Regions from separate parts of the Homo sapiens genome. Here regions 2 and 3 are each linked to region 1. Evidence: fine-mapped expression QTL. A gene starts in region 1. Each other region holds a variant in brackets. All regions are shown on one strand. Distances are between the middles of the regions.

Region 1 (4,239 bases):
GGGATTACAGGCGTGAGCCACCACGCCCAGCCGTGAATTGCTTTTTTAATCACTCCACTTGGATGACACACAGGCATCTCAAAATTAATTATTTTTAATTGATAGATAATTGTACATATTTATGGGGTACATGTGATATTTGACTCATGCATACAATACGTAATGATCAAATCAGGGTATTTAGAATATCCATCTCAAAAATTTATCATTTATTTGTATTGGGAGCATTTAAATCTAGCTATTTTGAAATATACAATAAATTATTGTTAACTACAGTCACCCTACTGTGCTATTGAACACTAAAATTTATTCCTTCTATCCATGTTTGTACCCATTAACCAACCTCTCTCTATCCCCTTCCCCTCCCAGCCTCTGGTAACTGTCATTCTACTTGCCAACTGCATGAGATCAACTTTTTAGCTCCCACGTATGAGTGAGAACATGTGATATTTGTCTTTCTATGCGTGGCTTATTTCACTTTACATAATGACCTCCAGTTCCATCTGTGTTGCTGCAAATGACAGGCTGAATAGTATTCTGTTGTGTATATATGCCACATTCTTTTTATCCATTCATCTGTTGATGAAGACTTAGGTTGCTTCCATATCTTGGCTATTGCGAATAGTGCTGCAATAAACATGGGGATCCAGGCATACCTTTGACATACTGATTTCCATTCCTGGATAAATATCCAGCAGTGGGACTGCTGGATCATATGGCAGTTCTAGTTTTACTTTTTTGAGAAACCTCCATGCATTTTTCTATACTGGCTGTATAATTCAGTGTATGAGAGTTCCCTTTTCTCCATGTCCTCACCAGCATTTGTTATTTTTTTGTCTTTTTGTTAATAGTCATTCTAACTGGCAGTGTCAAATTTAACAAGTTCAAATGGGAGTTCTTGATCTCCCCCCGCTTCCAAATATATTCCCCTTACAATAGTTCCCATTTCAATAAATAGCACCTCCACGGGCCCAGTTAATAGGTTAAGCTACCAATCTCTGCTTCCACCCTTAACTCCTGTCTTCACATAGTAGCTGACATACTGCTTTAAAAGGTATCAAATCCTCCACCCCTTCGATGGCTTCCTGTTACGTACAATTTTAAAATCCTTATCATGGCCTATTAAGTGCTGCGTGATCTGGCCCCTACCTACCTTTCTGACCTCACTTATATTGTTCTTCCCGTTAAAAAGCTTCAGACAAGCTAGACGTTTTCCATTTCCACAAAGAGCGATCTTTTCTCCTCCAACCCAACCCACCTGGTCCAAGAGTTTTCACAGGGCTTACCCTGCCCCTCTTCCATTTGGCTAACTCTTTATCTTACTCTGAGAGGTCTTCCTTGACTACCCTTCCTTGGTCCCTAATTTATTTAGTTTTATTTTTGAAACAAGAGTCTCGCCCTGTCACCCAGGCTGGAGTGCAGTGGCACAATCATGGCTCACTGTTAACCTCGAACTCCTGAGCTCAAGTGATCTTTCCTCCAGCCTCGGCCTGCAAAAGCGCTGGGATTACAGGCATGAACACCTGGCCCCTATTTTTAAATTACAGCTCCTTCCGTGCATTTTCTACAATTTTAAACACATATTGGTTTAAATGACACTTGATTACCGTCTACCTTCTCCACTACAGAATTAACTTCAGGAGAAGAGGAACCATATCTGCTTTGTTCACTTTTGTGCCCATAATAGTAACGGCACCAGCAGCAACAAACATACAGCATTTACTTTGTGGCAGGCATTATGCTAAGCGCCATACATACAACTAATTTAATATGTACTCCTAGTACATTGTCTGGCAGGTAGCCAATGGTCAGTTTGTTCAGTGAATGAACCCAGACCCTACATGCTCATCTACAGGGTGCCTAGCACCCCAGGAAACTGCTCCTTATACTGTTAGATAACTGGTGCTCGCAGGAATCTTATTTACACTGTATTGGCCTTAGCATGCCTCCCTGCAGTTTCCACCCACTGGTTCTATTTCTGCCCCTTCTGGGGCCACGCAACACGAGCCTGAATCGTCCTTCCGCAAGCTCGCCTTTGCAGTACCCGAAGCCCCACGCGCCCCCTCCTCGTCTGCCTTCCTCCCGCCTCCCGGTGCCCCTCCTGCAGATACAGCTTTTATGCGCGGTGGTCGGGAAGCCCAGCCCCGGCCAGCCAGCTGCTCCCGGCATCCTTCGCCGCCTTGCGCGTCACATGACGGCGGCGGCTCCGCACGATCCCCAGGCAGCTGTCCGCCCCCGGGCGGGGCTGGCCGCACGCCGCAATCCTACCGGCTGCTGCGGCTCCAGCGGGGGCGGCGGGTGGCTTCCAGGGCACCGGCGGCCGCGGCCCGGACTCCGCGGTGGGCGAGCGCCCTGTGAGGTAAGCGGCCGGTGCGCAGAGGCTGCGGGCGAACTTGGGCGGCCGGGGGAGGGGACCCGGGGCGCTTCCCCAGGCGACCGACCCAGGAGGCGCCGCTCAGTCCTGGCCGAGGCTGAGCGTCTGGTCGGGCTTCGGGCATCAGGGGTCTGGCAGGACCATGAGGCGTACCCTCAGGCCGCCCGCGGCTCCGCGGTCCCCCGGCATCCGGAGGCTCAGGCGCGCCGACGGAGAGCTATGCCTTGGTTTACCCTCCCGTAAAACTACCGGACGCGGAGCATGTATCTCCGCGGTGCCTCCAGCCCTGAGATTTTTCGAGTGTGTAAGTAAAGTCGAAGAAGAAGAAGCTGACTCTTGGGATGGGAAGAGCCTTCACCTAGGAACGCAGGGGCAAATATGGGGCTGGGCACCCACTGTGTATTTTATGCAAATCTCAAGGGGCAAATATGGGGCTGGGCACCCACTGTGTATTTTATGCAAATCTCAAGCCTCTCAGACGGTTTTTTCATCTTTAAACAAAAAGTGATAACCCCTGTCCTGCCTCGCTCTTAGGACTACAGTGAAGAACAGAGGGGAAAGTCATTTGAGGAGCCAGAACTCTGGAGTCAGTTAGCTCTGGTTCAGATCACAGTTCTGCCACTTACTGGCTTTGTGACCTTCAGCCAGATTGATTCCTCATCTGTGAAAAGGAGGTAATAAGCTCATGGGTTGCTGGGAGGATTAATTGTAAAGGGTTTAGCACACAGTGTCTGGCACAAAAGCCTCAGTAGATAATGCTGTTAATATAAGCATTATTAGTAAGCTAGAGATTGCCCCACGTGAAGGGCTTTTTCAGCAGAATAATCACATTTGTTTCTATATTTTTAGTCCTGAAAACTGCCGTTTTGGTTTGTAAGACCTTTTCTTTTTCTCATTCTGGGCCCCCTTTGCCTTCTCTTTTACAATTGGCATATGAACCTGTTGTTCCTACCATATGAGTCAGGCTGGATGGGAACATCAATTTACTTGAGCAGATTGGTATCAGATTCCCTCTGAGGGGAGAGAAAAGTGCCAGGCATGTGTAGCCACCGAAAAAAAAAACACAGTACGGTGATTGACTGTCAGAGCTGGAGGATGCCTGGGAAACCATCTAATCCAGCTGTCTCCTTTGCAAATGGAGAGACTGGACCCAGAAGGACGACAGGACTTTGATTTTGCTCAGGACCCAACAGAGTGCTGGCAGTGGGTAGTGGAGAGGATGGACCTTTTACCAGGCACTGTGCTTTCCCTCAGTTCTAATCTCATTCCGCATTTATTCAGCAGCTATATGGAACCCCTACTCTGTCTTGTACACCTACTAGGATCTGGACATAGAGCTGTGAACAAGACACACATGGTCCCTGTCCTCAAGGGGCTTTTTCCAGAGCTAGCTATGTTAGTTTGAGGTTATATAATGTTTTATATATATATCCATCTCCCTGCCCGTTCTCAGTACATTTTAAAATAACAATAAGCTGCAGCTCCCAGTGAGCTTACCTCATAACAGCTGGCCTCCAGGGATAGGAGCACACAGAGAGGCCTGAATTGTTTCCTGATCCCTCACACCAGTTCCAGAGCCCTTGCTGGAGCCTGGTGAGATTTGAGAGACTGGAGAAAAAGCTGCTTTATCAGGGCTTTTAAGAAAGGATTTCCTTCTGCCCTGGAGCACTTGGATTTCTTTGTCTTTCTGGTTTCAAGCCTATTATTGTTTTTAGATTTCTGAGAAGAGCCGCCTTCACCATAGTGCCATCATTTTGGTTGCCGTGGTTATCAGGGGAATTGTATTTTTATGATCGCACAAGTAGCTGTTAAGCAATAAATGCTCAAGCAGTCACCAGGTCACCATGAGTTTCCGTTCTCTGGTT
Region 2 (4,239 bases), 35 kb after region 1:
ATCCAGAGTCCAATCAGTTGCAGTCAAGAGGTCGGGGATCCTTTGTTCTACATATACATCTGCTGGGAACCTTACCTCTATAATCATGTGATATAAATCACTGGTAGGGGAGAAGAAGATTTTCCAGAAAAAGCAAGTAGGTAGATGGCTGGGCAGCCAGCCCATAGGTGTTCAGAATAACCAATTAACTGCTCAGGATAACCAATGGCAGAGCCAGGACCAAAACCCACAGCATCTGACTCAGCAGTAGTCTGTCCTGGGGCTGCCCCACGTGGGGAAACAGTAATTACTTGATCTGGGAACAAGCAGAGACAGACAGATGGACAGTCACTGCCTCAGTTCTCATTCCTAATAGTGTAAAGAGATAGAGGTCTCTTCCTTGAGAGTGTAGGGGATCCAGAGCTCTAGGACCCTAACAGCCAAAGGTGGGTTCCCTCTTAGAAGTCCAGACTCTTCTAGTTGCAAGTCACAGAAGCCCAAATCAAACTAGCTTGAGCAAAAGGGGGATTTAGTAGAAGGCCATTGGGATATCCTACAAAATTGAAGGAAGAACTGTAGATTCCAAGACATCTTTAAGAATCTGGAATCAGTACTATCAGGATACACACACACATGTGCTCACCTTGTTTTCTTCCTCTTTTTAAAGGTCATCTTTCTGTTTGGCTCTTATACCAGAAGGTTTCCTCCACATGGTGGTGAACCTGGCAGTTCCGGAGTCGTATCCTTTTTTTTTTTTTTTTGAGATGGAGATTCGCTCTTGTTGCCCATGCTGGAGCGCAATGGCACGATCTGGGCTCACTGCAATCCCTGCCTCCCTGGGTTCAAGCGATTCTCCTGCCTCAGACTCCCAAGTAGCTGGGATTACAGGCATGCACCACCATGCCCGGCTAATTTTGTATTTTTCATAGAGACAGGGTTTCTCCATGTTGGTCAGGCTGGTCTTGAACTCCCAACCTCAGGTGATCCACCTGTCTCAGCCTCTCAAAGTGCTGGGATTACAGGCCTGAGCCATTGCGCCCGGCCTGGAGTCATATCTTTATAACATCTGACCATAGAGAAAAGAGAGTCTTCCTTGCTAATTCCTGGTGGAAAAATCTAGAGTAGGATTCACATTGAAAGGATGGAGTCCTCTGACTGGCTGAGCCTTGTTTATTTGCTCACCCTTGGGCTCAGGAGATGGCAGGGGGTATTTTAAGAAAGGGACTGGAGGCCGGGTGTGGTGGCTCACGCCTGTAATCCCAGCACTTTGGGAGGCCAAGCCGGGCAGATCACCTGAGGTCGGGAATTTGAGACCAGCCTGACCAACATGGAGAAACCTGGTCTCTACTAAAAATACAAAATTAGCTAGTTGTGGTAGTGCATGCCTGTAACCCCAGCTACTTGGGAGGCTGAGGCAGGAGAATTGCTTGAATCTGGGAGGTGGAGGTTATGGTGAGGCCAAGATCGCACCACTGCACTCCAGCCTGGGCAAGAAGAGTGAAACTCCATCTCAAAAAAATAAAAAAGGGGGACTGGTAAGTAGGATAGACAGAAATCTCTTTTGTTTTGTGTCTGTCTCCTAGGTGACCATGGAGGCTGGTGGCCTCCCCTTGGAGCTGTGGCGCATGATCTTAGCCTACTTGCACCTTCCCGACCTGGGCCGCTGCAGCCTGGTATGCAGGGCCTGGTATGAACTGATCCTCAGTCTCGACAGCACCCGCTGGCGGCAGCTGTGTCTGGGTTGCACCGAGTGCCGCCATCCCAATTGGCCCAACCAGCCAGATGTGGAGCCTGAGTCTTGGAGAGAAGCCTTCAAGCAGCATTACCTTGCATCCAAGACATGGACCAAGAATGCCTTGGACTTGGAGTCTTCCATCTGCTTTTCTCTATTCCGCCGGAGGAGGGAACGACGTACCCTGAGTGTTGGGCCAGGCCGTGAGTTTGACAGCCTGGGCAGTGCCTTGGCCATGGCCAGCCTGTATGACCGAATTGTGCTCTTCCCAGGTGTGTACGAAGAGCAAGGTGAAATCATCTTGAAGGTGCCTGTGGAGATTGTAGGGCAGGGGAAGTTGGGTGAAGTGGCCCTGCTGGCCAGCATTGATCAGCACTGCTCAACCACACGCCTGTGCAACCTCGTCTTCACGCCAGCCTGGTTCTCACCCATCATGTATAAGGTGGGTATCCACATCAATAGACGGCCTTTCTAGTTCTGACCCCAGAGGCTTGCCCTCTTTTCTGGGCTTTTAATCCCTTTTTTTGTTGGAATTGAAAGTTAAGAGTTATTATTATACTCATACTCCTCTGAGTGCTGAACCAGTTGAGAAACAGGCACAGTGATCAGTAGAGTTCAGAATTCTGCTTTATTCTTGGTAAAGCAGTATTTAAAAATGGCTTGGGCTTGGAACCAAAATTCTTTTGCACCTCTTCCCTTTCCAACTGGACCAACTGGAGCCACCAGTCTAGCAGCGGCGGGAAAGCCAGGTTCTGGAAGCATGCCACTTGGTGACAGGAAGCAGAGAGCCCATTAGCTGCTCATGGAGGCATGCCCAGAGTGAGAGCCACAGAGGAAAAAGGCTATACAGGACTAGTCACCTTCAGCACATGAACCCCACCCTGTGTGGGATCAAGGAAGGGCAG[G/C]CTTTTACCATGATTTGCTAGTTCTCAAGGGCAATGGTGAGAAGGTTAGAAAATATTTGTCCAACATATTCCTTCCGTGAATGCAGAGCCAGAAGATGGTTCAAAGTAAAGCAGGTATCCAGGTGTTGGTAGTTCCTGGCAGAACAGTCTATAGCTTATACATTGCCTAGAAACTTGGATTATGTAGGTAGTCAATAAAAATTATATCGCTTTCCTGCCTGCTCATAAAAAATAAAAGATTTTTGGCCAGGTGCAGTGGCTCACACCTGTAATCCCAGCACTTTGGGAGGCCGAGGCAGGTGGATCACCTGAGGTCAGGAGTTCGAGACCAACATGGTGAAACCTGTCTCTACTAAAAATACAAAATCAGCGGGGCATGGTGGCAGGTGCCTGTAATCCCAGCTACTCGGGAGGCTGAGGCAAAAGAATCGCTTGAACCCGGGAGGCGGAGGTTGCAGTGAGCTGAGATGGTGCCATCGCACTCCAGCCTGGAGGACAAGAGTGAGACTTTGTCTCAAAAAAAAAAAATCATATATATATGATTTTTAAAAGTATATTGCCAATAACAATTGTCTCTCATGTTTGTAATGATCCTTATACCACTGGTCATTTGTGACAGATGTAGTGTGTGCATGCCATATGCCTTATAGCCATTATCTCATGGGTTCCTCTCCACATGCCTCTGAGATAGGTAATGTCATCTGATTTTATAGATGAGAAAACTGAGGCTCAGCAAGATTAAGTGACATCAAGGTCTCAGACTTAGTAAGATCCAAAGTCTATTCATAATCTAGGTGACTTTCCATCTGTGACCTCATTGGACCCCCACAGCAAACATTTGTGTAGGTGAAGTAGATGTGGTATGCCTATTTTGCAAATGAGGGCTACTGAAGGTCACAGTTGGTAAGTAACTTTCTCAAGTGGGTAATTAGGGAAGTTAGATCTCAAATTCAGGCCTTCTCATCTAAATGCTTATAAAATTACATCATGCTATGTTACCTGAAAGCTTAAAAGCTTGTGTTTTAGCCCTAGAGCATTTCAGAAGAACTGATGAACTTCTCTGGTGCTGGTCTGCAGGCCCAGAAGGAGAGTTTGTTTCTAGAAAGAAATAATGTTCCAGACCCTTCACATTTTGTAATACATTTATTCTTAGAGTAATATTTTGATTTCAGCCTCTACTTCTCCCTCAGAAGTATAGTCATAGATCCTCAAGGGATGAGGCCTGGCGTTAGACTTGTTTGTAGCCTGCCCTGTGGCTTAGTGCTTAGCATATAACATATATTAGTTAGTGTTCAGTCCATGATTGTTTTTCAACTAAAGGAGACATGGGGGCCTGGGATGGCTTTGCCTGAAAAATGCAAAGGCCAAGGCGATTTCACAGCAGTTTTCAGTGACTTCTAAGGAGAACCTTAGCAGTGGCTCTGCATCTCCAGAGAGCTGGCTTTTTTATCTTTAGAGAGAAAATGGATTTAAATAGCAAGGAAAAATTAGGTTAGCCATAAGGAAGAAATTAGAAAAGTTAAGGGGGCTTAAATTCTGGGACAATCTATCAAAGGTCAATTTTAAAACTTATTCAAGGGGTAGGTACGTCTGGATTATTAAATGGAATCATGAGATACTCCC
Region 3 (4,239 bases), 42 kb after region 1:
AAACGTCTGTGCTGGGTACAATGAGAAGAAGGTCCAGGGAAAATTGGACACGTGATAAGAAGGGGTGGAGAGTGAGGGTGTCCCAACAGCAGAAACATCCTACGCCAGAGCCTGGGTGTGAGGTTGAATTCAACCATGCGGTGGGGCTAGGTTGAAGGATGAAGCTGGGGGTGAGCAAAAGCTACCTTACCCAGACCTGGAATCCCCCTTGAGACATTTGGGCCTTATGCTAAGAACAGTCCTTCTAGCCACTGCGACAATCAACACCTTCTATGTGCTGGGACTTAGGGCACCACAGGACAATCTGCAAATCCTGTAAATGGTTGATGACAGGAAGGCCTTCTGAAGGGAAAGACAGCCCATGCAGAAGAAAGCATGGCATAGCACCTAGATTCGAGTCTCACCTCTCCACTAACTCACTATGAACATGACCTTCACTTTCGTAAAATGAAAATAAGCATCCCTATTTTTCTTCTCTCACTGGCTATTGGAAGGTCCCATGCCGGAAGTATTCAGTAAACTAAAGAACATTGTACAAAGGTCACTCATGAGTGTTGCAGGCTTCTAAAATGGTTAATAGCAATCACATTTTAATTAATTTAAATTTAATTGTGTTTTACCCAGCCCACTTCCAAAGAGGATTTCAGGTGATGTTACTTTGAAAGCATAATGCAAGACTCCTGTACACATACATAAAAGAAAATGGCCAAATAAAAAGGGAAAGGTAATAGCTTTGCTGTCGTGACTACCACGATGAAAGGATCTGGCTCAAGCCCTCAAGGAGGGCATTCTTCCTTGCATAGTTATTGAGAATATGGCTTTCTAGTTAAAGTCTGGCTCTGCCCCTTAAGTCGGCAGGGTGAAGACGCGAGGCAAAGGAGGTGTGTGTGAAGGCCCAGAAGTAAGGGGAGACACACCCTTTCACCCTTTCAAGCAAGGCCTTGATCCTTGCTCCCCCACAGAAGGCTGTCACCTGGCTCTGTCCTCTAGAACATCCCAGGAGGGTAAAGGCTGGCAGGAGGAGCCTGGTTGCTTGAGGCTCCAAGAAGAAAAGTGTCAGCCGGGTGCTGTGGCTCAAGCCTGTAATCCTAGCACTTTGGGAGGCTGAGGCGGGCAGATTGCCTGAGCTCAGGAGTTCGAGACCAGCCTGGGCAACACGGTGAAACCCCGTCTCTACTAAAATAAAATAAAAAAAAAATAGCCAGGCATGGCAGCGGGCACTTGTAGTCCCAGCTACTCGGGAGGCTGAGGCAGGAGAATTGCTTGAACCCGGGAGGTGGAGGTTGCAAGTGAAAGCCAAGATTGCGCCACTGCATTCCAGCCTGGGTGACAGAGCAAGACTCCGTCTCCAAAAAAAAAATAAAAAAAAAGAAGTGTCACCGACTGTGATTTTCTTCTTTATGTGTCATAAATTTTAGTTGGAAGTCAGATATCTCATGTAGGACAGTGGGGACTGAGCTCTGTAGTATTTAGTTTGGAAATGGGCACACCTCTTCTTTTGCCTGGCTCTTAGGAGGTCGATCTAGTTAGGAGCTGAGCCCGTTTGAATTATGGTGATGATAGGATTATCCTCAGCGTCCCGTAGGCTTCAGCTCTCTCCAGCATTACCTCGTGCTAGTTTTCTCCGCTTCAGATCTTCCTTTGTGCCTGCTGCTCAGAGGCGATCTCCGCTGCTCTCGCCCTCCCTCAGCAGTAGACTGCCATTATTTGTCACCCTACGTGATGGCAGGGTTTCTCTCTTGTCCTGGGTCATCCTTAGTCTAGGTAGGTGCTGTGTCTGTGGTCTTGAGAGCAGGACTTTTTCAGTGACCCTGGCTCTACCCCCAGCACTAGGGGACCTCTGATGATCTGGGCCTAAGTCACTTTCCTCCCAACACCCCCAGAGATAAGAGTGTTTTCCCGCTGTTTCTCTGTGCATACGGTTTGTTTTGTAAGAGAGTTAGGGGGAAAGAACACAGGAGAGGGGCTTAATGCCTCTCTCACTTTTGTCCCCAGCCTGCGTCAGGAGGGTGCTGTCTCCAGTCTC[TCA/A]TCTGCCCCCAGTTTTCTCCATGAACACCTAGTGAAGGCCACAGAGAAGTGAACAGGTGCAGCTACTCCCAGAGTTTCTGCACTCACACTAATTCACAGCTGGTCTTTAACAGTGCATTGAAAATGTTAGCTGAGTTCTTACTGGCTTGTATGACACATGCAGCCCTGCATTCAGCAGGGAAGTGCTCAGGCCTCGTCTCCTTGGAGGCGCCTGTCTTTCTTTTTTTGAGACGGAGTCTCACTCTTTCACCCAGGCCGGACTGCAGTGGCACGATCTGGGCTCACTGCACGCTCCGAAAGGCACCTGTCTTTTTGTAGCATTCAGGCTAGCCGGTTGTCCAGCAGCCTCAGCTCTGATGGGTTCCACCAGAAAGTCCATGTTTGTGTATATTCTTTCTACTTTCTCCATCCTAAGCAGAAGCTGAAACCTTACCATTTATACTCTTGTTCTACTTTAGTCTTCACAGAATTTTGTCCTAATGCAATATATTATTAGTAGTACACAATTTATAATAATATATTTTATTATTAATCTATAATTGTTTAAGACAGCATAGATAAACATTCCAGATTTTTTATATATTATCATGCTTTGGTATCCGTGGGGGCTTGGTTCCAGGATACTAAAATCCACAGATGCTCAAATCCCTTATATAAAATGTTATAGTATTTGCACCTAACCTGCACACATCCTCCCACACTTCAGTCATCTCTAGATTACTTATAATACCCAATACGATGCAAATGCTATGTAAATAGCTCTTCTACTGGGTTTTTTTGTTTGTTGGTTGTGTTTTTTTTGTTTTTTTTTTTTTGAGACGGAGTCTCCACTGTTTAGCCCAGGCTGGAGTGCAAAGATGTGATCTCAGCTCACTGCAACCTCTGCCTCCTGGGTTCAAGCGATTCTCCTGCCCCAGCCTCCCAAGTAGCTGAAACTACAGGCATGAGCCACCACGCCCAGCTAATTTGTTGTATTTTTAGTAGAGATGGGGTTTCACCATGTTGGCCAGGCTGGTCTCAAACTCCTGACCTCAGGTGATCCGCCCGCCTCAGCCTCCCAAAGTGCTGGGATTACAGGCATGAGCCAACACGTCCAGCCTATACTGTTGTTGTTTTTTTTAATTCAATTTTATTTTATTTTTGAGATAAGGTCTCACTCTGTCGCCCAGGCTGGAATACAGTGGCACAATCTCGGCTCACTGCAACCTCTGCCTCCCTGATTCAAGAGATTCTCCTGCCTTAGCCTCCTGAGTAGCTGGGACTACAGGCATCTGCCACCATGCCTGGCTAGTTTTTGTATTTTTAGTAGAAACGAGGCTTCACCGTGTTGGCCAGGCTGGTCTCAAACTCCTGACCTCAAGTGATCCGCCCACCTCGGCCTCCCAAAGTGCTGAGATTACAGACGTGAGCCACCACACCTGGCCTGTTTTTCAATTTTATTATTTATTATTTTTAATAATGTATATTCAATCCACAGTTGGTTGAATCCATGGATGCAGAACCCACAGACATGGGGGAGACAACTGTACTTATTAAACATAAAAAGAAAATGTAATTGGAAATATATCCCTTTATTAGCAGGTTGCTGGTTATGGGAACTTGTTTGAAGGAGGCTTTGTTATACCAATATCTCTAATCATCCCTTCATTTGGAGTCTCAGTAGTTTTCCACCCCAGGGTGATACACCATGAAAGATTTAGGATGTGCAAGAACAGGCCTTTGTTTTATAAAGTGGAAGGGAAGGTGGGAGAGGAGAACCTGTGTGGTACCTTACTGTCCGTGCCGTCTCAGACAGGTGGATTTTAGTGAAGGTGCATTGGAAGTGGTGGACCTGGAACTTTATTTCATTAAAAGTAGCTGCACCCTCGACCCCTGGGGAAATCTTCATGCAAACTTAGTGCATGTAAAGTTTGAAGACCACTCAGTCCCATCTTCCCCTAAGCGTCCTTTCTATCCCATCATCCAGCTATGCTGCTTGCAGGTTCTGAATATAGAGCACAGGGCCAAGCTTTGGTCCAGGTTTTAGTTAAAGGACCAGTGTGGGCCAGGTGTAGTGGTTCATGCCTGTAATGCCAGCAGTTTGGGAGGCCAAGGTGGGAGGATTGCTTGAGCCCAAGAGTTCCAGACCAGCCTGGGCAACATAGTGAGATTCCATCTCTACAAAAAATAGAAAAGTTAACAACAAAATTACTCCAGCCCACATCCATAGTA

Evidence for each region. PIP is the estimated chance that this variant, and not a neighbour inherited with it, causes the effect.
Region 2: its variant is the best candidate, but not a certain one, in a credible set for the expression of FBXO10 in whole blood (TOPMed, PIP 0.78).
Region 3: its variant is the best candidate, but not a certain one, in a credible set for the expression of FBXO10 in blood mononuclear cells (TOPMed, PIP 0.74).

What each region holds. Positions count from the first base shown.
Region 1 is chr9:37,574,331-37,578,569 of GRCh38, reverse strand. FBXO10 (F-box protein 10) reads left to right here and starts at 2,190. Exons shown (of 11, transcript NM_012166.3): 1 at 2,190-2,359. RefSeq lists a silencer at 2,157-2,536.
Region 2 is chr9:37,539,098-37,543,336 of GRCh38, reverse strand. It overlaps FBXO10 (F-box protein 10), which reads left to right. Exons shown (of 11, transcript NM_012166.3): 2 at 1,563-2,153. The coding sequence starts at 1,569. Among named protein-coding and RNA genes, the nearest start is that of FBXO10, 35 kb to the left of the region's middle. The variant G/C (reference allele first, on the strand shown) is at 2,617.
Region 3 is chr9:37,532,477-37,536,715 of GRCh38, reverse strand. The region is part of intron 3 of FBXO10 (F-box protein 10); the gene reads left to right. Among named protein-coding and RNA genes, the nearest start is that of FBXO10, 42 kb to the left of the region's middle. The variant TCA/A (reference allele first, on the strand shown) is at 2,027.